4 separate regions of the Homo sapiens genome follow, and regions 1, 2 and 3 are each reported to be linked to region 4. Evidence: microRNA targets listed by miRTarBase, many of them from high-throughput screens and not tested one by one. Region 4 holds a microRNA gene; each other region holds the end of a gene's coding sequence. Distances are from middle to middle.
Evidence for each region. Region 4 holds the annotated microRNA hsa-miR-632 (GUGUCUGCUUCCUGUGGGA, at 4,198-4,216, shown strand). A microRNA usually pairs through its seed, bases 2 to 8, with sites in the 3' UTR of a target mRNA and lowers its output. Matches are read on the target gene's strand: a 7mer-m8 pairs with bases 2 to 8, a 7mer-A1 pairs with bases 2 to 7 and ends in A, and an 8mer does both.

Region 1 (7,560 bases), not on the chromosome of region 4:
TCCTGCCCCCAACCTCCAGCCACATGGGCCCTCGGTGACTCTCCCAAACCAGGCCCTGCGTTTCCTCAAGCAGCCACTGGAGGGCAGCAAAGTGCTTATGCAAAAATCCCACCCCGCCCAGGAGAGCAGCCAGGACACCTGGGACTTGGCTTCAGGTGGGCCAGGGAAGGAGGCAAGGAGCCTTTTGGAAAATGGGTGTCTGTCCCATCCTGACTCCCTCGGAAGGAAGAGTAGGGAATGGAAGAACTAAGATTCCGGGGCTTCCCCAGGTGATACCGAAGGAGCCATAGGTGTGCCCGGGAATGAGTCCCAGACTCGTGTGTGCCTCCCGGGCCCCCATCTGCAGCTTCCAGAAGAGGACTTCAGTGGGAGACCCCTCAACTCACATTCCGGACAGTCAGATTCCTGGCTGCCTCCAGCTTTACAAAATCCAGCCCACCCCTTCCTGGGCCCAGCCCCACCCAGGCCAAAAATGTGAAGGGCCTGCAGACTCCCTTCCTCCTTTACAGCTTGTGACACCTGCTCAGCTGCGGTTTCCTTAATCTTGCATTCCTGTTCCCCTGCCCTTCCTACTTCTGACGCCTCTCCTGGTGTTTCAGGATTCCTCACTGCCTGGATTGGAGATGGAACGCATAGACTTTGGCCCTGACCCTGCTGCCTACACTGTGGTACCTGCCACCCCCCCTCAGGACCCAGAGTAGGAGGCTGCGGCATCTTCTGCCCGGCTTCCCCAGCTCTGCAAAGAAGCCATTTCTCAAATGGCTGTGATGCGTGTGTGACACTGTTTATTGCCGAGGACCTGTCCCTCCTCCCCCAAGCTTTTGGCACTCAGCCCTGAATAAGCTTCTAAATCCCCAGTTTCTGCAGTAACTTATCCCAGGGAGAGGAGAACTTGGACAAGTAGATTCTAGGAAGCATGACCAAGGCTATCTGACAGTGGCAGGAGAGTGGGGTGCTGGGGCTAACCCTCTGGAACTGAGGCCAGAGATGAGGAGAGGAAACTGAGGGGCCCGGAGGAGAGGAGGTGGAGGAGGGTGGGAACCGGGTGAGAAAGTCAGTGGAGAGAAATGTTCTGGTGCCTCTCCCGCCCTATCCTGGCTATGAACTTCCATGTGGCAGATGGAAAAACTGAATTCCAGACAGCAAGAAACCCTCACCTAATAGCAGGAGCCCGCTGGCAGTGAGGCTAGGAACCAGAAACCAGAAATCTTGCCTCCCAGCTCTTGTCTGGAAGATAGAAACCTCAGAGTGCAAAATCTGGCGAGGGGTTTCAGGAAAGACGGGAGGCCGGGTGGCACTGAGGACAAGAAATCCCCAGGACATCAGGGCCTGACCACCCACCTCTCTGCGCTCTCATGTGGTCTCATTCCGGCCCCCACCCAGGCCCAGGGGCAAGCGTGATACCCTGTTTGCTTGAGGCAGCTGTGGGTCTGAACCCCAGGCCCGCCACTCGCTAGCCGTATGACCTGGGACTCATTACCGAGCCTTTCTGAGCACCTCGGCTTTTCCCTCTGCTACGGACATGAGCAGAGCGCTGTCTCTGGAGGATCACTGCGATGGATTAATTTAGACCAGCACACAGTGGGCATCTCACCCGTGCCCCCAATGCCTTTGCTGCACACACACCACCCGCCAGTTCTTGGCTCCTTTTCTCTTCAAATATCCAAGATGGAACAAAACTTCAAATGCTTCTGCAATGTTTCTTGAAAGCTGGGAGTAGGAAGGGTGGGGAGGGATGGGGCTGGGAAGGAACAGCACACCTCGTCTCCCTTCCCAAGGCAGACGGAGCTCCCAGCACAGGGGAGAGAGAAGAGGAGGAGGGCGAAGCCAAGGGAGGGTCCTGCTAGCCACTCAGAGCCTTCCTGTATCCACACAGTAACTTTCCACTGGCCTGGAGTTGGCCACTGCACATGCTGGCTGCACGCTCCCCCAGTGTGGCCTCCTGGTTCCCTCCCCACAGGCGCCCCTCTGGGGGTTGGAGGGCTGACGCACACCCTGCCTGAGATCCCAGCCGCCTGGAAGCTGATAAGGAGCCCTGGCCTCATTACATGGGACCAGCTGGAGGGACTGGCCCTGGCTGTTAGCATCAGCTGGATGGCTTCCAAATTGGAGAGATGCAGAGATAAGTGGGGGAGCACTTAGGGACTCTGGGCTGAGTGAGTGGCCAGTGAAGCTAGAAGAGATGTGGACTGTGCCAACTATGAAGACCTCAGGAGGCCTGGCTGGGGACGAGCCAGCAAACAGCAGCTGACAGGAAGGGTTTAGGAAATAAGAGGTGCAGAAGGGACTCCCACACAGCCTCGGGTTAGGGCTGAGGCAGAGCAGGGACTCCTTCCAGATGGGGCTGGCCTGGCAGCTACAGCGATTGCCTCCTCCCCCAGAACATCCAGCCGGAGGGCCCAATCACACCTCACTCAGCCTTAGGCCTGTGGCAGCTGCCTGGCGGGTGGAGAAGTGAGTGAGAGGATGTGGGTCTCGGTCCTGCAACCCCAAATGCCTCCCAGGTGGACGCGGGTCTGGGTGGATTGGCTCCCCAGCTCCCACTTCCCTGGGAGCCCCAGGGCAGGCCCTTACCAAGGAGCGGGGCCCCCTGCCCTCACCTCCTGCCCCAAAAGAGCTCTGTCATGACCCGGGAGGGCCATTCACAGCAAGCAGCAGACAGCACAGGCTTCAGACCCTCTCCTATTGCCCTTGGCCTCCAGGTCCAAATCCCTAGAACAAGCCGCTGGTCCCAGAGCCAAGAGAAGATGGGCAGACTGGGACAGCCATCCTGCCCACCCACTCCACCTGCCCAGCTGTGTCCCCTACCCCCTTTCTTACAAAGTGTCAATGCCTGACCTGGATGAGAAAGACAGGAGGACACAGACTGGATGCAGGACAGTGTGCCCTAAGGCCACATGATTGTGCAGCCCTAGGAGGAATTGCAGTGGGGCTCAGGGCTCTGCCGGGCTTCCTGGGTCTCTCTCCTGCATCTGAAATCCTGCTAGGCTTCTCCTCCTTGTCCCTTGGACCCTCAAACCCAGAGGAGCCTTCAGCCTTGACCGTCCCAGTTTGGAAGATGTAACGGGCGAATGGGGCGGCACAGGGATTGACGTGGCCTCAGTTCCTCAGGGTCCCCATGGCGTATGTACAAGCGGCAGAGGGCTGGGCTGGGCTGGGGTAGACAGTGACCTGGCCACAGGCTGGGTTGGCAGCTAGTTTTATATCTGGTCTCGCAGGAGCGCAGGGGAGGGACAGGGAACCAGGAGGGGCGCATTCTCTGGAGGACGGTGGGGCAGGGAGGGCTCCTCATTCTCGGTTAGTGCCAAAAAGCTGCAGGAAGAAGGTGAAGATATAGATGATGTCTAGGTAAATGTTGAGGGCTCCAAAAATATACTCCTCAGGGCTCAGCGAGTGGCGTCGGTTACCCATCAGCAACTGGGTGTCAAGTGCCAGGAACTGGGAGAAGTGAGGAGAGAGAGAGAGAGGTCAGAGGCCCAGGCAGTGTGACACTGACTATGGCAGCCCAGGTGTCCCCCTCAGCCCCACCCCCAATTTTATTACCCTCACCAGCTGCCTGACTACCCAGTGGCCCTCCTGTGACACCTTCTGTCCCTAATTCTATTCAGCAGCTATTTACTGAGCACCTGCTATGTGCTAGGCACAGGGATACAGCAGAGAACAAGACAGCCGGGATCCCTGTCCTCACAGAGCTTAGAGTCTAGAGGAAGTAATTGTTAGGATGATGAGTATAACAAGGTTCCAGGCAGCAGTGGGGCTGATAACAAGGAGCCTCACCTATGTGAGTGTGGCAGGAAGTTAGGGAAGGCTTCCTGGGAGAGGGGACCTTCAAGCTGAGGCCTAGTCTTCTTGCCATTCCCTCCGGACCCTGCTCTCAGAGGAAGGCAAACGCTTCAGGTACAAGCAGGGCCCGGGCACTTGTGCTGTACTGACAGCCCATCAGTGCTACCGACATCCCCATCAAATAAGAATCCGATTCTTCCTACAGGAAGCGAGGCCCAGAGACCTTAAATATTAGCTAAAGGTTACACAGCTGGAAAGTGGCAAAGCCAAGATTTCAACCTGAGCAGGCCGGCTTCGGAGCCCCAGGTGTAAACATTCTGCCCTGCTGCTAACAGCACCCGGGGTTAATGCCTTTCCTCCCAGGAAACAGGCTCTTCCCTGGGGCCCTGCTTGGCCTAATGGACTAGGAACAGATTCCCTCTGAGACAGCGCTGTGTCACCCCCCTGCCCCTGCCAGGCCTGCCCACTGTATACAGTGGCTCCTACCCTTTGCCATGTAGCTTTCCTCTGGGCTCCAAGCCTAAAGAGCAGAACCCTTAAGTAGCATATGAAATTTGGCAGGCGTGGTGCGCTTTTCTGGAGAAAGAGGCCAAAAAGTCCACCAGTATCTCAAAGGTGATGAAGCACTGATCCACGTGGGATTGGAATTTTTTTTCTTTTCTTTTCTTTTCTTTTTTTTTTTTTTGAGACAGAGTTTCGCTCTTGTTGCCCAGGTCGGAGTGCAATGGCGTGATCTCAGCTCACTGCAACCTCCACCTCCCAGGCTCAAGCGATTCTCCTGCCTCAGCCTCCCGAGGAGCTAGGATTACAGGCATGTGCCACCACACCCAGCTAATTTTGTATTTTTAGCAGAGACGGGTTTTCTCCATGTTGGTCAGGCTGGTCCTGAACTCCCAACCTCAGGTGATCTGCCCGCCTCGGCCTCTCAAAGTGCTGGGGTTACAGGCATGAGCCACCAGGCCCAGCCCGGGATTAGAATTCTTTTACATTGATTCACATTCTTGTTAACTGGGCTCTTCAGTCACTTGTGTATGAAAGGCATGTTCCCTGGGTCCTCTGAAACTCATTCATCATACAATAAATATGTATGGGGCAACAGCTGCATGACAGGGACTTGCTAAGAGCAAAAGAGACGAGAAACACAAAGCCGTGCCTGCCTTGGGGAAGCTCGCAGCGTCATGGGGGACACTTATAGGTCATTACAAGAAAACCCAGGAAATGCACAATTAGGACTATGAAGGAAGGAGCTACTAATTGGGCCAGAGGAAGGTGACCCAGGAGAGGTGGCATTTCACCTGAGGCTTAAGTAGGAGTTTGCTAGCTGGGAAGGCCTAGGGAAGCCTGGGAGGCCTGACTGGTGTTGTGTGAAGAGTGGGGAACTCGGTGAGGCAGGAACTATGGGAGAAGTGGATAGAGGAGGAAGGGATTGGGGCTTGCCCTTGCAGCTTGCACTCTGCTTGGTAGACAGGGGTCATGCCCAGTTCCCTTTCCTTCACCTCCGCCATGGACTCCTTGTCTCCCAAGACCCAGACTTTAGAGTTGCTATAGACGCAGCCCTGTAGAATCCTAGTCGAATCCCAGCCCTGGTGCAATGCTCCCCCCGGCAGGCCCAAGAGGCCAGGGCTCCAACAGGGAGCAATTCCAGCACATGGGACATTGAGGCAGGGCCACCGTCAAAGGTGAGGAGGTGGGGGCAATTATGAGCACAGGCTTGAAAGTCAGATCCACTTGGACTGCAGGCTCTGCTCTACCACTCATTAGCTGTAGGACCTGGGCAGAGCATTTAATCTCTCTAGGCCTGTGAGTCCCTATGTGTAAAAGGGAGATGAGCGTGCCTGCCTCCTGAGGTTGTTGTGAGAATGAGATAATGCATGCAAGGGGCCTGGCGTGGTGCCTGACACATAGTAAGCACTTAATGAATGCTTGCTATTATATTAATGTGGTTTCATTGTTATTATCTGCAGAAGGAGAGGTGCCCTCTTGAGGACATGCACGTGCTACTGATGAGACTCAGGTGTCTCTTGCATCTCATCAGGGAGGCAGCACTGTTCCTTGGGGAGCTGAGTGGCCTTAACACAGCGAAAATGGGGAGCCATGGCCAGGGCTGAGAGGAGCCCTGCACGGGGTGCGTCAGTCTCCTGAGCTCAGTGGCACTGAGGGAAGGGCACTCCAGACAGGAACAGGAGTTGAAATGCCTGGGTTTGAGACCCGGCTCCATTGCTCAGTAGCCAAGTCATCCACTTGACCTCAGTGTCCTCATCTACAAAGTGGGATAGTAGCAATGCCCACACCACGGTGTGGTTTTGAGGGTAGATTTATGACAGTGTATGTGGCATCCACTATTTGTATTTTTGAGTATGATTTCTCTCCATTCCGCTCTGCTCCTTCTGTGTTTGATTTGGATTCCCAAGCACATTTTCCTTCTGCAGAGAGAATGAGCAAGCAGAAGGCCCAGTGCAAATGCTTTGGGCCACTTGGCAGTCACAGCTGCCAGCATCAGTTCATAAACTGCTGATCTGGCTGTTCAATCAGTAGCTTGCTTGGTTGGTTTCCCAGAGCCTGGTCACCCCTGGGTGAGCTAATGAAATGGAGTCTCTTAACTTGGAAGGCTTGGATCTGTCCAGCTCTGGGGGTGGCCCTTCTGAGAAGCACCCACGCAGGAGACCCCCTAGAGCAGCCAGCTGGCTTTTCTCTTGGAGAGAAGAGGAATGAAATGATTTCTGCCCCAGCCCTTGGTCCATAGCCACAGATGCTTATCTATGTGGTGTTCTCTGGGATGGCCTGCTTCAAATTTCAACCCCACTGACCAGTATGACCCATCACTGCCACCTGATGCCTGTGAGTCAAACAAAGTCTTTTCATCGATTTATTCCCAACAATATTTGCTGAGCACCTACTATATTCCAGAGAACTTGCCCTCATAGAACTGACAGTCTAATGAGGGCAAAAGACATGATCAGAGATTCTGCATGGCAGTGCATTGATTTACAGGGGAAAGTCATCTGCTGCTATCTCCTTGGAGATGGAAAGCATTGTTAACTAATGTCTTGGTTGAGAGCAGGTATCTTGGTTATAGTTAACATCTTAGTGGGTAGCTAGGATCTTGGCTGAGAGCTAGCAACCGAATTGACTGCAAACCCCTAAAAGGAGGGCAGGTACTTGAGTTAGTGTTCAGCTGAACAGGAGACTCTGCAGGAGGAGCACATGGGATGGGGCAGGAGGCCCCCTGGGACAAGGACGCTATTAACTTACATCTGAAGAGTCCTTCCCCAGACCAACACTTGATCTCATCTCCCTCTCCCCATTTGCCCTGGGAGGTGGGCGTCCTCATGGTCTTACATGAGGAAAGGAGTCTGAGAGCTGAGTGACTTGCTGATGGCTGCTTATCGAGTGCCGTCTCCTATGCTGGTGGAGATAGGGGAGGAGTGGGCTTGCAGGGAGGGAGGGAGCATGTGCAGAGGGCACAGGTGCCAAAGGCAAACTTCCCCGCCTCACTTTACTGGCCAGTGCTAAACCTGGCCGGGGACCCCAGCCACACATTTGGCCTGACCCTGCCATATCTGGGGCCCAGGCTTATGTCCGTTGTCCTCCCTGAATGTGGCCCCAGAGGTGACGCTGAGGGGCTCTGGGCAGTGCATGCCATGGAAAGGCCAGCTCAGAGCCACCCGCAGGCAGGCACTGAATACAAAAAGCTGGGGTTGCAATGTGTTGTATCAGCATAAACAGTGCCACGTGGACTGTGTCTGTCCTGCATAAATGCCAGTGTGAGGGCGTGTG
Region 2 (4,000 bases), not on the chromosome of region 4:
TCACACCACTATACTCCAGCCTAGGCAAGAGTAAGACTCCATCTCAAAAAAAAAATAAAAATAAAAATAAAATAAAAACAAAAACTAAAGTTAAAAGGTCTGGTATACTGAACTGGTAAACTAATTACAATTTTGCTTTCCAACCTCCTCAAGTATTTAAAAGACCCAACTCAGCCCATCTTAGAGGCCTTGGACAAGGACAGCTCACCAAAGGATGACGTCTGGGACTCTGTGTCCATTATCTCGTTTCCGGAAAAGGAGCAAGAAGATGTTCTCCAAACGCTTTGAACCAAAGCATGGGCCTAGCCCACTGGCTCCCTGGAAGAGATCAAGCCATCGGAGCTGCTAGAGTTCTGTCTGGACTTTCCAGAGACCAGTATTCCCTTTTGCTGCCTCTAAAAGGCCTGTCCCTGCAGACATGAGAGACAGCAGGTCTCATGGGGGTGACAAGCTTTTTTTTTTTTTCTTAAAGAATTTTCAAAATCAAATTCCAGAATGATTTTACGGAGATATCCCAGGAAAATTAAGGCTTCTCTTAAACACTAAAAAGGCATGTAATTGCTTGTTAGCAAAATGGATATGACACATCTCTGATACTTTTTTCATTATTGGTTGGGCTGAGCAGTCAGAAGACCTGGTCGTCGTCTTGACTTTGGCAAATGAGCCGGAGCCCCTTGGGCAGGTCACACAACCTGTCCCAGCGAGGGACACCGAGTGGCCCTTCATGTACATCCATGGTGTGCTGGCTTAAAATGTAATTAATCTTGTAAATATACTCCTAGTAATTTAAGATTTTGTTTTTAAACTGGAAATAAAAGATTGTATAGTGCATGTTTTTTAAAGTCTATGTGAAGTGTTTTCTTTATTGTAGCCTATTTTCTGCAGAGTTTCAGCTTTCTAAAATTACTCAATCTAAACTTGTTTTTTCTTAAATAACACCTGCTAGAGCTACTGAGGCCTCATGGGAACTCAGCAAACACTTCCTATGGATGTCACTTGATCCTCCAAAGGTTATAAAGAAGGCCAGGGCCTAGTGCAGTGGCCCACGCCTATAATCCCAGCACTTTGGGAGGCTGAGGTGGGTGGATCACTTGAGGCCAGGAGTTCTAGACCCACCTGGGCAACATGGTGAAACCCTGTCTCTATGAAAAATGCAAAAATTATCCAGGCATGATGACATGCACCTGTAGTCCCAGCTACTTGAGAGGCTAAAGTGGGAGGATGCTTTAGCCTGGGAGGCGGAGGTTACCATGAGCCGAAATGATGCCACTGCACTCCAGCGTGGGAGGCAGAGCGAGACCCTATCTCAAAAAAAAAAAAAAAAAGAGGGCTGGGCATGGTGGCTCATGCCTGTAATCCCAGCACTTTGGGAGGTCAAGATGGGAGGATCGCTTGAGGCCAGGAGTTTGAGAACAGCCTGGGCAACATAGTGAGACCTTGTTTTCACAAAAAATAAAAAATTAGCTAGTCGTGGTGGTGCACACCCGTAGTCCCAGCTACTCAGGAGGCTGAGACCAGAGGATCATTTGAGCCTAGGAGTTAGGAGTTCAAGGCTGCAGTGAGCAATGATTACACCACTACATTCCAGCCTTGGCAACAGAGCAAGAGACCCTGTCTCAAAAATATAAAAGTTATAAGGGGGATTTGCAGAAGGCACATTAGCACTTCATTTATATGTGACAAGTCACACTGTGTTGACCAAGGCAGGGATTTGTGGGCAATAAAGAGAATTAACTGATTAATCAATAGTAATGTTATCTACTGAGCACGCAAGTCATCTGATTGTGTCAGTACTGTCGGGCTCTGTTGTTCAAAGGATATGTATTTAAAATCCATTTATAGGCTGGGCACGGTGGCTCACACCTGTAATCCCAGCACTTTGGGAGGCCGAGGCAGGCAGATCACCTGAGGTCAGGAGTTCGAGACCAGCCTGGCCAACATGGTGAAAGCCTGTCTCCACTAAAAGCACAAAAATTAGCTGAGTGTGGTGGCAGGCACCTATAATCCCAGCTACATGGGAGGCAGTTGGGGCCCTGTACTGCTGGTAAGAAAGTGGCTTTTTTTTTTTCTTTTGAGACAGAGTCTCACTCTGTCGCCCAGGCTGGAGCGCAGTGGCGCGATCTCAGCTCGCTGCAACCTCCACCTCCCAGGTTCAAGCAATTCTCCTGCCTCAGCCTCCCGAATAGCTGGGATTACAGGCGTGCACCACTATGCCTGGCTAATTTTTGTATTTTTAGTAGAGATGGGGTTTCACCATGTTGGCCAGGCTGGTCTCGAACTCCTGACCTCATGATCCACCCACCTTGGTCTCCCAAAGGGTTGAGATCACAGGCGTGAGCCACCGTGTCCGGCAAAAGTGGCTAACTCTCTTAAGTGTTGTGTACCATGCTGTCTGCAGTGGCAAGAGTTAGAAAAACAAGGCCCACTCCCACCCCATGCACACAAGTCTCCCTGTGAAGCATCTGTTGTATGCATTAGGTGCACCTTAAGTAGACAAGTTTGGAGGAAGAAGTTGTAGATAGGAGTTGTAAAGACTTACCTTAGACCGTTCAGGAAATCGGAGACAGAAGAGCTTCTTCTGTTGGGCAGCAGGATGGTGGCCAGCGAGGAGTGGAGGATACATCTATAGCAGGAGAACAGGAAAGAGTTTCAGCCCAGCAGGACAGAGGGCAAATCAACTCTGTTAGGGTAAGTGCATCTGTGCCACCCCATTTATTTATTTAGAGACACAGTCTCACCCTGTTGCCCAGGCTGGAGCGCAGTGGCACAATCTCACTTCACTGCAACCTCTGCCTTCCGGGTTCAAGCGATTTTTGTGCCTCAGCCTCCAGAGTAGCTGGGATTACAGATGTGCGCCACCACACCCAGCTAATTTTTGTATTTTTAGTAGAGATGGGGTTTCACTATGTTGGTCAGGCTGGTCTCAAACTCCTGACCTCAGGTGATCCGCTCACCTCAGCCTCCCAAAGTGCTGGGATTACAGGTGTGAGCCACTGTGCCCAGCCTTAAATAGTATTTTCTGAAATGAAATGCCTCATTCTCCTTAGTAAAATAAATGACTAATTGATGGGATTAGTATTTACACTGTCAAGGCCAGGCGCAGTGGCTCACACCTGTAATCCGAGCACTTTGAGACCCTGAGGTGGGTGGATCATGAGGTCAGGAGTTTGAGACAAGCCTGGTCAACATGGCGAAAACCTGTTTCTATTAAAAATACAAAAATTAGCTGGGCGTGGTGGCTCACACCTGTAATCCCAGCTACTTGGGAAGCTGAGGCAGGAGAATCACTTGAGCCCGAGAAGCGGAGGTTGCAGTGAGCTGACATGGCACCTCTGCACTCCAGCCTGGGCAACAGAGCAAGACTCTGTCTCAAGAAAAATAAAGTCAAGCTAAGTACATTGTCAAAATTTTTGAGTTGGAAGCACTCTTATAAATAATCCGTTGACAGGGCATAATCCATAACCTACTTGCCAAATCAGCCCATTCCCTGTTTTTGTAAAACCCGTGTGCTAAGAATAGCTTTTACATCTTGGAATAGTTAAAGTCAAAAGAAGAATATTTCATCACACATGAAAATTCTATGATATTCAAATTTCACTGTTCATAAATATTTATTAGAACCCAGAAGGTAAGCTGCGTGTAGTGGTTCACACCTGTAATCCCAGCACTTTGGGAGGCTGAGGTGGGCGGATCATTTGAGGCCAGGAGTTTGAGACCAGCCTGACCAACATGGTGAAACACCGTCTCTACTAAAAATACAAAAATTAGCTGGGCATGGTGGTGCATGCCTGTAATCCCAGCTACTCAGGAGGCTGAGCGAAGGGAATTGCTTGAACCTGGGATGCAGAGGTTGCAGTGAGCAGAGATCGTGCCACTGCATGCCTGGTGACAGAGCGAGACTCTGTCTCAAAAATAATAATAAAATAGGCCGGGTGCGGGGGCTCACGCTTGTAATCCCAGAACTTTGGGAGGCTGAGGCAGGAGGGATCATGAGGTCAGG
Region 3 (8,401 bases), 27 Mb from region 4:
AACATTCCAAGCTTGTGATAAGCCCCCTCACCCTAACACCAATATATACTCTTAGTCTGTAAGAGAAAGGGCTCCTGACCGAAATCGGCCAGGAGCGCCTCTCAGGTTTTAACTAAAGAAAAGCTGTCTTTAACTGCCAGCCGCGTTTCGTGTTTCTTTCCTTTTTCTTTAACTCTTACAAATAGCTCACATCCAAATCCAGTGGGCATCACATCCAAGTCCAGTATAACCGGACTTGACTGCTGCATCTGCTCACTCTCTATTCCTTTGACTAGCAGCACTCATGGGTCTCCTTCCTCTCTTTGGCTGCTCATCCTTTCCGTCCTTCAGTATCTCCTCTAACACGTTGGGGATCATAAGCCCCATGAAATCAGTCCCTGCCCCACAACTCTGCCTCTTTTCATGCACCAGAAACTACACCTTCCCTTTCGACCGGAATGTGTTCAGGTTCCCATCTCTCAAACGGGCTTTCCCCCCTGCCTAGAATGCCCTCCCTCCCACACGACCTCCCCAGCCGCCTCCTCACAAACCGGGTCAGATCCACTCTTCTAAGATCCGCAAGCCCCCGGTACGTTTCTCTACCCTTTTACGCGGAAGGTGAGTCTTTGCCTACACACGTTGGTCACTCTCACCGGGCTGTCCAGCGCCTCCAGGGCAGGGCTGCCGGACTCTTCTTCGAGGCCCCTCTCCAGGTCTGGCCCAGAAAAGGTATTCAGGTTTGTTGAAGCCACGAACGAAAGGGATTGAGAGGCATGTAAGAAAAACTGCTCTAGCTAAGCCACGGACGAAGTGCAAGGAAGAGCCCGCCGGCGCGGCCACTCACCGATGAGGACCGCGTTGTCCAGGTTTCGGAGCTGGGCCAACAGTTGCCCCCGCGCTTGGAAGATGGGCAGACTCCGGCGCTGCAGCTCCACAGCTTCAGGGTAGGGACTGGCCGAGGGCTGGGCCAGGGGCGGCTGCTGCCTCCGGCCTCCTCCTCCTCCTCTGCCGCCGCTGCCCGCAGTCAGCAGCATCACCACTTGCCTCCCGGGAGGGAAGGACCCAGCGCGGCTCGGAGGTCCAGAGCCTGGCCGGAATCTCTTGGCCGGCGGGAAGCCCGCCTCCTCCGGCATGTCGGGAGGGCACCGCGGCGGGAGGCGCAAGCGCCGAGAGCTCCTGCCCCCTCTCAGGTGCAGACAACAGGAGCACACCGCCCCTTCCTCGCCGCCACGTGCTGGCGGCTCCCGGCGACCACCGATGACCTCACGGCCGCCCCAGTCTTTAGAAAAAGGGACTGCATCTCCCAGCATGCCTTGGGGGCTTGGGAAGGCTTTCACTTCCTGGGGGTGGGAAAAGCAGGGCCTGAGGTACAACCAGGAAAAGGCCCGGAGCTACAACCGGGAAACACAGGATGTAAGGTTCCGTGGGACTGTAGTCTTGGTTAACGAGGTTTTTCTCATTGTTTTATTTTTTTTTTTTGAGATGGAGTTTCGCTCTTGTTGCCCAGGCTGGAGTGCAATGGCGCGATCTCGGCTCACACTGCAACCTCCGCCTCCTGGGTTCAAGCGATTCTCCTGCCTCAGCCTCCCAAGTAGCTGGGGTTACAGGCGTGCGCCACCGGGGCCCGTCTAATTTTGTATTTTTAGTAGAGACAGGGTTTCTCCATGTTGGTCAGGCTGGTCTTGAACTCCCGACCTCAGGTGATCCGCCTGCCTCGGCCTCCCAAAGTGCTGGGATTATAGGCGTGAGCCACCGCGCCCCGCCCATTGTTTTGTTCTAGTAGCATTACTTCTTTTCAGTAAACCCGCGTTTTCCCCTTCTCTGTCCAAATAACAGTCACTCTTCAAGGAAAGTACTTAATTCTGTAAAATCAATGAGAAGCGCAAACGTGCATTGTCTAATCCTCTAAACAACTTATAAGTTATGTGGTATATACTGGTTATTAGATTATCTCTAATTTACAGATTAAGAAATTGAGTCATCTTAGTCATTCAGATGTCCCCAAATCATAATTTTGTGATCATCTTGTGTTACAGAAAGGAAAACCAATTCTGATATACATGAATTTAACTCAGAAAATGACTCCTCCAACGGATGTGGTCGCCTCCAGTAATACAAGCAGAGAAAGGAGGGAGTTCAATGAAATTAAAATTGTCTTTTATCTTTCCTTTCCCCCAACCATTCCAGCCAGACTCTCAAGTTCTCTACATGGCTGTGCAACCCCATCACAGACACTTCAGTGAAGATTCAGAACTGCAGCAGAAAAAAGTAGGATTATAACTAGTTCTTCCTTACCCTCCTAAAAGTTCTTAGATGATTTGCTAATTTACCACGGAGAATGCCAAGTAGCTGTTTGCTCTTACAGGAAATGTGATTTCCAGAGAATACACCGTAAGCTTCAGCTCATGTGAAGGGTATCTTCTGAAGCTCGTTTCCATGAAACTCGCCCTGTTAAATATCTCCCTTCCCGTGATTCGTGAGAGAGCTAGTCTAAAAACAAAAAACCTCCCCTTTGCTCCAGGTCGGAGATAATTTTCCTCTAGTTGCTGACAGTTTGGTGACCAGGCATTACTGAAAATGTGCACGTTGAACCAGCAGCAGATTTGTGTTTAAGAATAAACTGACAAATTTTCACTTCCTACCCTGAAATATTTAGAAAGGCAACCCAAAACTACAAGGGATAATAAATGTTAACTCTCAAATTATGGACTTTGAGTAAAGACATCCCAGTCCTTTTTCCCAGTGTGCTTTCCAGAGTAACTTAAGGTAGGAGTCCGATGTTCCAAATGATTACAATAATTTAGGTAATGTAAATGGGTGGACTTATTTCTTGATGGAGCACATTCCACCTCTACATGCAGCCCCTAATCATTTCTAGGCAATGGCTGTCATGTAGACCTATTATTGCCAGATCTTCCAATTTTCTCAAGAAAAGCCAAAAGTGAAGATTTTTATCTGTCAATGTTAAATACAGGTTTAAACTTAAAAAAAAAAAAAGTACTGTCAAAACAAAGCACATAGGTAGGTAACAAATCTGTAGGTAACTCATCCATAATCTCTGGCCTAATGATCCAGCTATTCTATAGCCTCAAAGCTAAGAGGACCAAAGAGTGGAAAAATTAAGTCCTATATATGCATCAAGCCATGCTGCTCACATTTCTCCCATTGGTAGACTGAAATCTGCTGTTTCTCCTGAAGAAGTCTCTTGGGGTTCACCAGCTTTCATATGTAGATACTGACAAGCTAATAACTATTCAGAGAATATCCTGGTTCTTCCTTCAAACGACGAAGTGTCAGACACATTTCATTTTTAACTTGTCTGGGATGGTCTGTGGACTTAACTGGTCTGATCACGACCATAACAGCTGGTGGTCACCTTTGCTTTTCCGACCACCAAATTACTGCCCTTGATCATGTTCAGTTTCCCTCTATCCCACTTTCAGAGACAACCACAAGCTTCAGCAACTAGGCTCAAGCTTGCATGCATACACTTTAATCCCTCTATAATTAAAAATACCAGATAATACTTTGCTGATCAATAAACAAAGGTATTTATTCAGCACCCATGTGCCAAGCACTGTGCTAGGCACTGTGGTGGATACAAAAATTAAGACATGGTCCCTGCCCTTAAGGAGCTTACATTCTCATGAGGGAGACAAGACTAATATACATGTACCAGCTAGGAACAGTACAAGACAATATATAATTTGGCGTTAAGAATGTCATACAGACTTGAAGCTTTATAGGGATTCAGAGACAGACAATAAAATAGGCCTTAGAGTCAAGATTTTTTGAGGAATCAGGAACAAGGCCAGGCCTTGAAGAACTGAAGAGACTTAAGTTGAGGTCCCTGTTAGGTAGAAGTGGGAGTAAAGTTAAGAAAAAAACAAGTATGCATATAATGTAGGGGCTTACTAAGAAGTCACTGTGGATTTCTGAGCAGAGGAGTGACTTGATCATACAAGATTCAACAATTTTATTGCAAACTCATAAAATATGTTTAAGTAGCCTGGAGACATCCTACAGAACACAGAAAATAATGGCAGGATCATGACTAACAACATAGCTGGAACTCACCTGTCAAAGAAAAACAGCTACAACATAAAACACTGGCAGGATAGATGACAATAGTTCTAGGAAGCCCATTACTCAACATGGCAATAGCTCCAATGCTTCCTTATTTTCAGAGGCCCCAGAGACTGAGGGTTTCATTATCCAGACCCAGGACTTAGGTGTTCTGCTTCTAGAGACTACACAAGAGGTATGAAAGATATGAGGACATACAAGAGTGACACAGAAAAAACAAGAGGAAGAGAGAAACAAATAGAAATCCATACTGGAAAAAAACGCACCGAAATGTATATAAAATGTATCTCCTAAGGAGATGCAATTTGTATGTCCATTTATTTTTAAATGAACGTATACCGTATTTCCATAACAAACAAAAAACACTATGCTTTAGTCAAGTGTGCTTTTCAGTATCACTAGAAGAATCCAGGAATCCCTCAAATTATGTGTAAGGTTAGTTGGTTGGTCTCAAAATTCCATGTATCAAATCTCACTTTCAGTTTATTTGCATTGTGAAAGGGAAGTGTGTTCTGGAAGAACTAAGATTGAGAGGTAAATTGGGGAGAAAGTAAGGACTTTTCCTTATGTCCATTCAAGCACAGGTATCCTGTCAAGCAACACAGGGCTAGGAATGGTGGTTGTAGGGCTGGCCAAACTGATGAGAGGTGATTGAAATTACCACTGCTCAGGACACAGTGTAGTCAGTCACACAGCAGGGCATCCTGCCACTGGGAACTTGCACCCTATAAAATCGGAGAAATCAAAAACCCTGTAACTGCCTGCCTTTAGGCTGTATATTCAAAATGTATTTCCTGTTTTACCTAGTCATTAATGTATACAGATATTCCCTACTTAAATGAACAGTGAGTTAACAGATTTTAGGATTAGTATTTTACCACAAAAATGCCATTCATTGCATAACTCCAACTCAGGGAGAACAAATAAAACTAGAGAAACTCATTTCTAGCCCAAAAACAATTTAAAAAAAAAAAACAAAAAACAAAATTCTAACAAACGTCACTGATAAAGCGTTCTTGAGCAAAAACAAGATAGGATAAAACTTAAGAATCCCATAAGGATTATACATGCTAAGATTGGCTTTTAAACTTTGAAAACCTTTTTTAAACTGCTTAAAAAGCAGTCCCATAGACCCAGGTTCCATAAAATTGCAACAATCATATTCAAAGTTATTAGCAACATGTAAAATACTTAAATACCATTAGTTATGCAATTCCATTTAAAGACATTAAAACACTTTTCACTTCAAAAACAATCTGAAAATTCCTATTTAGGATGTCCATTATGTTTAAGCCTATGTCTATCTTTCTGAGGACAATGTCACATTCTGGAAAGCTACCCCTTAACAAAGGTTGAATGAACTACTACTAACAATCCACTTTTGGGAAAGGGACCTGTGCCTACATGCCGTTAATGAAAGCTGTTTGGAATCATCTCTTTCCTAGGGGTGCTCTTTCGACTCTTCCAGGTTCTGGAAGTTACTTAAGCAGTGTGAATGCAAACCTGCTGAGACTCAGGGAAGACTTAATATTTAGGGGAAGTATTTATTGAACCACAGCATTAAGTGTCTACTTCTGTGGACCCTGTCTAATTTCTACCTGATTGGGAAGGTAATCCAGGTACTTGGCTCTGAAAAGGTTCTTGAATTTTCACGAAGCAAATGACTAATGTTAACTAGCCAAAGACCCTGGAAGAACATATGCCTAGCTAACTGGTATCTGTTCGTCTGGCTCCAAAGTCAACATTCTAACTTGGTTTCCAAATCTAATGAAAATCTGAGACCCTGTCTCTATTTTTTTTTTTTAATTAAAAAAACAAAAAACAAAACAAAACAAAAAAGGCAAAAAAAAAAAAAATGGCTGGGCATGGTGGCTCATGCCTGTCATCCTAGCACTTTGGGAGGCTGAGGTGGGAGGATTGCTTGAGTCCAGGAGTTCAAGACCAGCCTGGGCAACACAGTGAGACCCCATCTGTATTTAAAAAAAAATTTTTAATTAAAACTTTTTTAAAAATAAAAGAAAAAAAAAGTCTAATGAAAATCTTCCTAGTTTTACAAAAATGTGGCCCTTACCAATCTTTCCCTGGATACTTCTTAATGGAGAAATGTAAGTAAAGCAAATAAGATGCCACATTAGCTTACAGCTGACTTTCCTATAGCTGAATTCCTACTGCTACAAGAACCATCCTCCCTCCTTTTTTTTCATGTTGTCTGACAAAGTTTGGCAAAACCCAGATGCAAAACAACCTATCCAGATGACAGAAATAAATCATCTTCCTGCTGAATCTTGCATTCTGAGTTAGTAAGATGTACACAACCACAGCATGACAGCCACGTATTTCCAATCCTGAAATGAAATCCAGTTAAAAGTTGTGAAGACACAGGAAGAACAGCTGTGTAAACTGTTCTGAGCTCAGATCTACGCAGGAGGGCTACAATACATTATCAGAATTTAAAAGATCACACACAAAAGCTTTAATACAGTGAGAGAAAAATGGAATTCCGTTTTATTTTGTCCTCTCTGAAACTTCCATTTACACCATGGCCTCATCTATCAAGAAGAGGAAGAAAAGGCTCTGCCTTATACCATAAAAATCAAGTACTCATGTACTTGTTAGAGGTGGCAGGATATTTGTTTCTCCAGTTTTTTGGCTCTAAGAAATTACACTTTCAGTACCAGTGTAGTGAGGAACCACTGGCAAACTGTTGGAAATGTCTTCTGGATTAGTCAGTGTACCATTTCATAAAGTGCTTCTGGAGTTAAAATCTGCCAAGCTGTCAAAAGTGTCCACACTTTTGCAACAAAGGATAAAAGATCCCAGTGGGTATCACCGAGTCCTTCCCAGCTGGGTCTCATTATTGGCACTGCTGCTTTAACCTCCAAGCCGCTGGCCCTCACCCCAGGCGAAGCCTCCTGGCCGTTCCTCAGGTAGTGGATTGTAATTTGGATCCTCATCTGGTGTATCAAAAATAGCTTTCCTAAAAGACAAGCAACAGATATAATTTGGTCCCAGAGTCATCTCAGGTCCAAAGTACTACAAGGTCAGTTCAGGCCCCATAGGGTTTCCACCAATAGGTAAGCATTACACCTGCCTGCCAATTAAACAGTTAACATATTGTAAGAGCATCTATAATTATTAACATTTACATTAGCTTTTATCTTTTACTGATTTTTACTACAAAAGCAATCCAAATCATAATAATTACAGAGAAGGAGGAAATAGAGATGAGCAAAATATCCTCAATTTCCAGAGGTAACTATTGTCAATGTTTTAGTTATTCTTTGGGAATTTTTACATTATGTCATTTTACAAAAGTTAGATCACACTACATGTTTTGTAACCTGACTTTCACATATTTATCATTAATGTTTCCCCATAACCAAGGTATCACCCAAGTGTGCATCAACAGGTGAATAAACAAAATACGGTACACACATATAATAGAATTTTTTTTTTTTTTTTTTGAGACGGGAGTCTCACTCTGTCGCCCAGGCTGGAGTGCCATGGTGCGATCTCGGCTCACTGCAACCTCCGCCTCCCGGATTCAAGCAATTCTCCTGCCTCAGCCTCCCGAGTAGCTGGGATTACAGGCGCCCGCCACCACGCCCGGCTGATTTTTGTATTTTTAGGAGGGAAGGTTTTCATCATGTTGGCCAGACTGGTCTCGAACTCCTGAACTCAGGTGATCTGCCTGCCTCGGCTTCCCAAAATGCTGGGATTACAGGCATGAGCCACTGCACCTAGTCAACATGGTGAAACCCTGTCTCCACCAAAAATACAAAAATTAGCCTGGCGTGGTGGCGCATGCCTGTAATCCCAGCTACTACTCAGGCGGCTGAGGCAGAAGAATCACTTGAACCTGGGAGGCACAGGTTACAGTGAGCTGAGACTGCTCCATTGCACTCCAGCCTGGGCGACAGAGCAAGACTGTCTCAAAAAAAAGGAAGGAAATTCAGGCACATGGTACAACATGGATGAACCTTGAGGACTTTACGCTAAATGAAATAAGAAATAAGCCAGACAAAAAAGGACAAATATTGTATGATTCCACTTAGGTACAGAGTAGTCAAATTCAGAGAAAGAAAATAGAATGGTGATGGCTGGGGTGGGGAGTTGTTTAATGAGTACAGAGTTGTAGTTCTGTAGGATGAAGAGAGTTCTATGGATGGTGGTGATGGCAGCAAAACAGTATGAATATACTTAATGCCACTGAACATTTAAAATGAGTTAAGATGGTGAATTTTATGTTAGGTATTATTTTACCACAAAATTTTTAAAAAATTAACAAGGTATCCCAAGAAAAATTACTGCAGAACATAGGAGGGGATAGTAAATG
Region 4 (8,401 bases):
ATGTATCTATACTAACTTTAGTATATACACATATCCATAAATATTTCTCTATGTATCTATTTTAAAATAAACACGAGTTCATTCTGGTGTCTCCAGCTCTAATCCATGGCCGCATGGATCATTCTAGCCTCCTCCCCTTGCTTATCTATAAACTCACTACAACGAGAGGCACAGCATGGTGGCTCACGCTTGTTAATCTTAACACTTAGAAGCTAAGGCAGGAGGATCACTTGAGCCCAGGAGTTCAAGACCAGCCTGGACAACAAAGCGAGACCTTACCTCTACAAAAAACACAAAAATTAGCAAGGCATGGTGGCATGGCCCTGTAGTCCCTGCTACTCCGTGGGCTGAGGTGGGAGGATCCATTGAGCCCAGGAGATCAAGGCTGCAGTGTGCTACGATTGCACCACTGCACACTACCAGCCTGGGCCACCGAAACCCAGCTAATTTTTAATTTTTTCATAGAGACAGGATATTGCTTTGTTGCCCAGGCTCGCCTTAAACTTCTGGCTTCAAGTGATTCTCCCACCTCAGCCTCCCAAGGTACTGGGATTACAGGAATGGGCTAGCGCACCAGGCCTTCTTTAATTTCTAACAGCAATTTTTTTTTGTTTTTTTTTGAGACGCAGTCTCGCTCTGTTGCCAGGCTGGAGTGCAGTGGCACGATCTCGGCTCACTGCAACCTCTGCCTCCCAGGTTCAAGCGATTCTCCTGCCTCAGCCTCCCGAGTAGCTGGAACTACAGGCACACGCCACTAGGCCCAGCTAATTTTTGTATTTTTAGCAGAGACAGGGTTTCACCATGTTGGCCAGGATGGTCTCAATCTCTTGACCTCAGGTGATCCGCCTGCCTAAGCCTCCCAACTAACAGCAATATTTTATTGCTTATTGCTTTCATAGTAAAAGTGTTTTAATCTGTTTATGGTGCTGTAACAAACACCACAGACTGGGGAATTTATGAATAACAGAATTGTATTTCTTTCTTTCTTTTTTTTTTTGGAGCTGGAGTCTCACTCTGACACCAAGGCTGGAGTACAGTGGCACAATCTCAGCTCACTGCAACCTCCACCTGCCAGGTTCAAGCCTCAGCCTGGGTTCTACTGTCTCAGCCTCCTGAGTAGCTGGGATGACAGGCACCCACCACAATGCCCAGCTAATTTTTGTATTTTCAGTAGAGACAGGATTTTGCCATGTTGGCAAGGCTGGTCTCGAACTCTTGATCTCAGGTGATCAACCCACATCGGCCTCCCAAAGTGCTGGGATTACAGGCATGAGCCACCACACCTGGCCAGAATTTTATTTCTTTTCTTTCTTTTTTTTCCCCCGAGATGGAGTTTCACTCTTATTGCACAGGCTGGAGTGCAATGGCGCAATCTCGGCTCACTACAACCTCCGCCTCCTGGGTTCAAGTGATTCTCCTGCCTCAGCCTCCAGAGTAGCTGGGATTACAGGCGCCCGCCACCACACTCAGCTATTTTTTTTGTATTTTTTAGTAGAGACAGGGTTTCATCATGTTGGCCAGGCTGGTCTCGAACTCCTGACCTCAGGTGATCCACCTACCTCAGCCTCCCAAAGTGTTGGGATTACAGGGGTGAGCCACCACCACACCCACTGAATTATATTTTCTTATAGTCTGGAAATTTGGAAATCCAAGATCAAGGCACTAATACTCAGTGTCTGATGAGGGCATTCTTGCTGCATCCTCATTTGGTTGAGGCAAGAGAGAGTAGAGTTTAGTTCCTTCCAGCACTTTAATAAAATCACTAATCCCCCCCCACCCAGTTTACTCATGATTTAATCACCTGCTAAAGGTCCCAACTCTTAATGCTATCACATTGGTGATTACGTTTCAAGCAGTTGGGGGGATATTCAGCACATTGCAATACGGTTTTAAACTTTTTCATTTTTCAATTTATTTTTTCATAGAGATGGTCTCACTATGGTGCCCAGGTTGGTCTCACACTCCTGGCCTCAAGCCACCCTCTTGCCTCAGTCTCCCAAAGCACGGCAATTACAGGCTTGAGCAACTGCACCCAGCCTGAACTTTTTTTTTTTTTTTCTTTTTGAGACAGAGTCTTGCTCTGTCGCCCGGACTGGAGTGCAGCAGAGTGATCTCGGCTCACTGCAGCCTCCGCCTCCCGGGTTCAAGCGATTCTCCTGCCTCAGCCTCCGGAGTAGCTGGGATTACAGGCGTGCCCCACCACGCCTGGCTAATTTTTTTTTGGTATTTTTAGTAAAGACCGGGTTTCACCATGTTGGCCAGGCTGGTCTTCAACTCCTGATCTCAGGTGATCCACCCGCCTCAGCCTCCCACAGTGCTGGGATTACAGGTGTGAGCCACTGCGCACAGCCCAAACTGATCCTTTAAAATTCAAATTTAATTCAGCTCCACACATACTTTGTGTTTTGGGGCAAATTATTCCAGCTCTCTTAAGTCTCTTTTATCTCATCTCTATTAACAAGTTGACAATAATGGCTCCTACCCCAGAGGCTGAGACAAATAATGTTAAAACTCACTACAATGCTTGGCACACGGTAGGTGCTCCATGGATGTCTGCTATTATTTTTTGCTTTTAATAGTAACATAATTTACATTACTAGTTATTATTATATGCTAAGCTCTGTTTTAAGTGCAGCCAAGATGAAGTTTAACTGCCTTGCCCAAAGTCAGGCAGCTAAGCAGTGGCACTGGTGGACTATGAACCCAAGCACTGGACTTTTAACCACCTCTCACTTGCATGATCCTCCAGTTGCCCTCTTAGAACCACTGTGCCTTCTCAGAGACTTCAGCTGAAATCCAACTTCTGAGAATGCTTCTAGGGTTCGCCAGAACCCGCCTTTGCTAGCCTCCCTAGGATTATCTCTTGTGACCAGCACCTTCACTGACAGCTCCAGTCTTTTTTTTTTTTTTTTGAGACGGAGTCTCACTCTGTCACCCAGGCTGGAATGCAATGGCGAGATCTCGGCTCACTGCAACCTTCACCTCCCAGGTCCAAGTGATTCTCCTGCCTCATTCTCCCGAGTAGCTGAGGTTACAGGCGCCTGCCACTACGCCTGGCTAATTTTTGTATTTTTAGTAGAGACAGGGTTTCACCATGTCGGCCAGGCTGGTCTCGAACTCCTGACCTCAAGTGATCCGCCTGCCTCGGCCTTGGCCCATAGTGTTGGGATTACTGGCGTGAGCAACCGCGCCCGGCTATCAGCTCCAGTCTTACCACGATTAGTTTTTCACGTGCCCAGCCTCAAAGACTTAAACTCTTTGCTCCCTTACGGAGATACCCTTTCCTTCACCTTGCTTGCTCCCGTTGACTCCTCAAGAAACCTTTCTTATGTCGGGCGCAGCGGCTCAAGCCTGCAATCCAGCACTTTGGGAGGCCGAGGCGGGCGGATCACTTGAGCCCAGGAGTTCGAGACCAGCCTCGCTAACATGGTGAAACCCCATTCTACTAAAAATACAAAAATTAGCCGGGCTTGGTGGCGCGGGCCTGCAGTCCCAGCTACTCGGGAGGCTGAGGTAGGAGAATCGCTTGAACCCGGGAGACGGAGGTTGCAGTGAGCAGAGATCGCGCCGCTGCACTCCAGCCTGGGAGACAGAGCGAGACTTGGTCTCAGAAAAATAAAACAAAACAAAGAAAAACAAAACTTTACTTGACAACCCAACGACCACTACCACTACAGCCGCCCTAGGACTCCCGCTCTCTGAGGTCCTACAGCACTTCGCATTTCCCTCAACGCCGCACTGAGAACTCTGCATTGTGTACTCGTCTGTCACCAATCTGCGAGTTACAAAGCAGAGACTAACTTATTTGGTTTAGCATTTAATAGGCACATAATCAACATTTACTGTTCAATTGAAACAAAATTAAAATTGGGCGCTGTCTCTATCTTTATTTGTGATCGGCCCTAACTGCACTGGCAATCTTTTCCGTTTTTTTGTTTTCTGTTTTCCATTCGCATGCCCCTTAGCGTACCTGGGGCTCCGGCTCCTTTACAAATGAAACCCAAAGTGCTCCGCAAGCACAGCCAGCGAAAGCGAAAAACTCTGAAACGGACAAGATGGCTGCCACCTCTTCGCGCCTCTTAGTCCCACCCACTCAGGGCGGAGGTCTGCGTCATGTGACCCTCCCCTTCTTGGCTCCGCCTCCTACCGCAGTGCTTGACGGGAGGCGGAGCGGGGAACGAGGCCGTCGGCCATTTTGTGTCTGCTTCCTGTGGGACGTGGTGGTAGCCGTTGGGTTGGGAAAGTGAGGGATTTTTGGCCTCGTTTCTCCTGCTTCTTTTCTCCTCCCTTTTACTTTGCCGGTAGAACACAGTTATGGGTCGCAAGAAGAAGAAGCAGCTGAAGCCGTGGTGCTGGTATCCTTTGTCGGTTTGAAGTCGAGGTCGCGTTGGGGTGCCGGTTGTTGGGGCCTGGGACTAGGAGGCCTGGATTTGGCTTACGGCGTGGAGCGTTTGTATTTAGGCGTCTGCGTGGGTGGCCTGGTGGCTGGGATTGGACTTGGGAAGGCTTCTAGGAAAATGGGGTTCCGAGGTCGACAGGCTTTTGCAGTTGTGGGTCGTGTGACTCTGTGACTCAGGAGGATCTTGTTCGGTGCGAATTTTGGACTCCGGGAGGCGGCCTGGACCCCTCCGCCAGGGACAGTGTCCCCTAGGGACTATTCAGCCACCTTCCGTTGTTTTGGTGACGATTCAACAAGGGACTTTTCTTCGAGTGCGATAGGCTTATTACTTTCATGGAGGGTTGGGGACAGCTTCACAGTCTGTCACCCACTTTTTCTGTTTTTATTTACTTTATGTGTGTTTTGTGTTTATTTTTTCGAATTGGCGGTTTAGTAAAGAACCAAGTTAGTCAACCCTGGTTTCGAACCTTTTTTTTTTTTTTTTTCTTTTCGGGGCGGGAGGAGAACTAGCTTCCGTGTCTCACCCAGAGGCGCCTTAATCTTCAGGAAGCGTTCTCACAGGGCGGAGTTTCTGTTACCCAACTTTGTAGGACTAAAAAGTGCCTATCTTATTAGGAAAACTCTTACTACAGTGTGGTATTAATGCTTTTTCTGGAAGCGTTAATATTCTTTACATTAAAATTGATTTTATTTACTGTTTTGTACGTAAAGGCGGCTTGTTACAGTACTGCGTTTATGTAACAGTTTTAAAAATAGCTTAAATACGGTTACGAATTTTGTAATGTGATTTTAGGAAAATCTGAGTAGTGAGGTAAGAATTCTGTTTTATTGATGTAAGAATTCTGCTTTATTGATTTTATTGATCTGTGAATTTAAATACATTGCTTGGCAACATAAATTCATACGGAATTGGAAACAACTTTATGGATTGTTCATTCGAAATTATGTGATTATTGTTCACCATATAGTTACTCTTAGATTCTAAATATTGCTAAATTCCTAATCCAGTTATTGCTATCGTCTTCATATCTAGTGAAGTAATTGTCTTGACAGAACCTTAGGGATTTCTTAACTGAACTCTTTCCTGTCCTCAGTGTGCATTTGTAAATGTTGAAATATTTATAACAAAAGTTTCACCGACATCTCTGTTAAACACAGGAATTTGACAAAGTATATTGCTGATTATTGAGATGTGTTTTTTGGGGTGGTGAAGAGAGCTGGCCTTCTAGGAAATTGAAAATACTGAAATAACATGGCAAGTGTAGTCCCTAATTGTGTAATAAATATAAAAAGCAGAGTTTCTATACAGTACCATTTTGGTTTTAGCTGTTCCCATATTGTAATGTTATCCATATGTTTTTATTATAGGCAGTGTCATCATTAGGCTGTCTTTGTGCCTTAACAGTATTGATCAGGTATTGTAATAGAGATTTTGATGATGAGAAGATCCTTATTCAGCACCAAAAAGCAAAGCATTTTAAATGCCATATATGTCACAAGAAATTGTATACAGGACCTGGCTTAGCTATTCATTGCATGCAGGTAAGGATTTTTCTTCTGTATTTATTGTCCGCTTGTGATTTGGAAACAACTTGAAAGAATAATCTTTTTTATTTTTTTGAGTTTCGGTCTTGTCGCCCAAGCTGGAGTGCAGTGGTGCAATCTCGGCCCACTGCAACCTCTGCCTCTCGGGTTCAAGCTATTCTTCTGCCTCAGCCTCCGGAGTAGTTGGGACTACAGGCAGCCGCCACCATGCCCGGCTAATTTTTTGTATTTTTAGTAGAGACTGGGGTTTCACCATGTTGGCCAGGCTGGTCTCGAACTCCTGACCTCAGGTGATCCACCCACCTGGGCCTCCCAGAGTGCTGGGATTACAGGCGTGAGCCACCGCGCCTGGCCGAAAGAATAATCATTTATTTCTCTGACAACTGTAGTTTTGTTTTTTTTTTGTTCACTTACTTACTGCAAAAGATAAGATAGCCAATCAGCATTAAAAAAAACAAAAAATTTGTTCGATAGCCATCAAGACAATAAACAAAACTGGCTTTTTATGTTTAAAGAGGGTTTGTATTTGTATTTAGTTTGATAGTACCTTACTAGGTTAGATTGGTAACATATCGAAATCACTAAATATTTCCTGAGTACTTGGAGCAGAGAACAAGGATCAGCGATTTAGATTTTGTAGGTGGTCTGGCCTTAAGAATTAATACTTAATTAGCAGTCATTACTCACTGCCATTGAAGGATCTGTTATTATCTGTAGCTTGGGGCTAGGCTAATTTCAGCAATTTATTTATTGGACTTCTTTTGGAATGGCAGCATTGTACTTTTTGCTTTTGTTTTTAAGAGATGGCCTTGCTCTGTGGCCCAGGCTGGATTGCAGTGACATGGTTATGGCTCACTGCAGCCTCATATTCCTGGGTTCTAGCCGTCTTCCTGCCTCGTTCTCCCAAAGCCCTGGGATTATGGGCATGAGCCATTGTGCCAGCCCAGAATTGTATTTCATTTAATAATTTCTAGGTTTCGGCTGGGCGCGGTGGCTCACGCCTGTAATCCCAGCGCTTTGGGAGGCCAAGGTGGGCGGATCACAAGGTCAGGAGTTCAAGACAGCCTGACCAACATGGTGAAACCCCATCTCTACTAAAGATACAAAAATTAGCCGGGTGTGGTGGCATGGGCCTGTAATCCTGGCTACTGGGGAGGCTGAGGCAAGAGAATCATTTGAACCCTGGAGGCAGAGGTTGCAGTGAGCTGAGATGGTGCCACTGCATTCCAGCCTGGGCAACAGGGTGAGACTCTGTCTCAATAATAATAATAATGACAATAATTTCTAGGTTTTTAAAGTTCTTTTAATAAATAGCGAGAGCATTGTAATTTATATTTTTTAAGATCTAGTAAGTACCTTCATGTCTCATTCAACATTATTCTACTTTGCTTAGTCCTAGAGCTGTCTGAATTTTTGCTAAATTAGACCTTACAGAAATATGAGATGAGCAAATACCAAATCATTGGAAACTACTATGGGTGGGAGGTAGGGAGACGTGATTTCTCCAGGTTTAAAGATAAATTTATATAGATCCTTTTCACTCCAGATACTTTAACAATAATTTAATATTCATTTTAAAATGTTGACCAGATGTGGTGGCTCACGCCTGTAATCCCAGCACTTTGGGAGGCCGAGGCTGGTGGATCACCTGAGGTCAGGGTTTCAAGACCAGCCTGACCAACGTGGTGAAACCCCATCTCTACAAATACCAAAAATTAGCTGGGCATGGTGGCAGGCACATGTAGTCCTGGCTACGGGGGCGGGGGGAGGGCTGGGGGCGGGGGGCGCGAGGCGGGTGCTGAGACAGGAGAATCACTTGAACCCGGGAGGCAGAGTTTGCGGTGAGCTGAGTTTGTGCCACTGCACTCCAGCCTGGGTGACAGAGACTCTGTCTCCAAAAAAAAAAAAAAAAAAAAAAAAATTGTTAGAGAACCTACTACATGTTAGACTCACAGCTGTTCACTGTTGCAGCCATTAGTTACATGTGGCTATTTAAAATGATATAAATATCTAAATGCTCAGTTTCTCTGTCAAGTAGCTAACTTATATTGGGTAGTGTGGATAAGAACATTTTGTTTTGATTGATTGACAGGGTCTCATTCTGTTGTCCAGGCTGGAGTGCAGATCATAGCTCACCGCAACTTTGAACTCCCTTACTCAAATGATCCTTCCACCTTAGCCTCCTGAGTACCTGGGACAACAATTGTGTACCACCATACCTGGCTATTTTTAAAATTTTATTTTTGTAGAGACAGGGTCTCACTATGTTGCACAGGCTGGTCGCCCAACTCCCAGGATCAATCGATTCTCCCACTCGGCCTCCCAAAGTGCTGGAATTACAGTTGTGAGCCACTGAGCCCGGCCATTTTCTTTAATTCTGAATGAAATAGGGGTTTAAATAGAGATGTATGCTCTGTCAGTTTTTTTTTTGTTTTATTTTGAAACGGAGTTTTGCTC

Region 1: miRTarBase lists FAIM2 as a target of hsa-miR-632. Seed matches in the 3' UTR shown: 7mer-A1 at 1,224-1,230.
Region 2: the mRNA of IFNGR2 is a reported target of hsa-miR-632. Seed matches in the 3' UTR shown: 7mer-m8 at 413-419.
Region 3: the mRNA of DERL2 is a reported target of hsa-miR-632. Seed matches in the 3' UTR shown: 7mer-A1 at 6,271-6,277.

Annotation. Positions count from the first base shown.
Region 1 is chr12:49,867,216-49,874,775 of GRCh38, forward strand. It overlaps FAIM2 (Fas apoptotic inhibitory molecule 2), which reads right to left. Exons shown (of 12, transcript NM_012306.4): 12 at 1-3,438. The coding sequence ends at 3,289. Among named protein-coding and RNA genes, the nearest start is that of BCDIN3D, 28 kb to the left of the region's middle.
Region 2 is chr21:33,436,675-33,440,674 of GRCh38, forward strand. It overlaps IFNGR2 (interferon gamma receptor 2), which reads left to right. Exons shown (of 7, transcript NM_005534.4): 7 at 154-842. The coding sequence ends at 288. It also overlaps a transcript of TMEM50B not described here. Among named protein-coding and RNA genes, the nearest start is that of IFNGR2, 35 kb to the left of the region's middle.
Region 3 is chr17:5,467,748-5,476,148 of GRCh38, forward strand. DERL2 (derlin 2) reads right to left here. Exons shown (of 7, transcript NM_016041.5): 7 at 3,507-7,042. The coding sequence ends at 6,937. It overlaps DHX33 (DEAH-box helicase 33), which reads right to left and starts at 1,235. Exons shown (of 12, transcript NM_020162.4): 1 at 824-1,235. The coding sequence starts at 1,112. DHX33-DT (DHX33 divergent transcript) reads left to right here and starts at 1,345. Exons shown (of 3, transcript NR_135644.1): 1 at 1,345-1,392; 2 at 2,167-2,247; 3 at 2,345-2,613. RefSeq lists enhancers at 287-869, 659-878, 1,259-1,328.
Region 4 is chr17:32,345,972-32,354,372 of GRCh38, forward strand. It overlaps MIR632 (microRNA 632), which reads left to right and starts at 4,138; the gene lies at 4,138-4,231. ZNF207 (zinc finger protein 207) reads left to right here and starts at 4,186. Exons shown (of 12, transcript NM_001098507.2): 1 at 4,186-4,355; 2 at 5,815-5,941. The coding sequence starts at 4,315. It also overlaps a transcript of C17orf75 not described here. RefSeq lists a silencer at 446-627 and enhancers at 3,636-3,755, 3,926-4,275, 6,443-6,952, 8,269-8,401.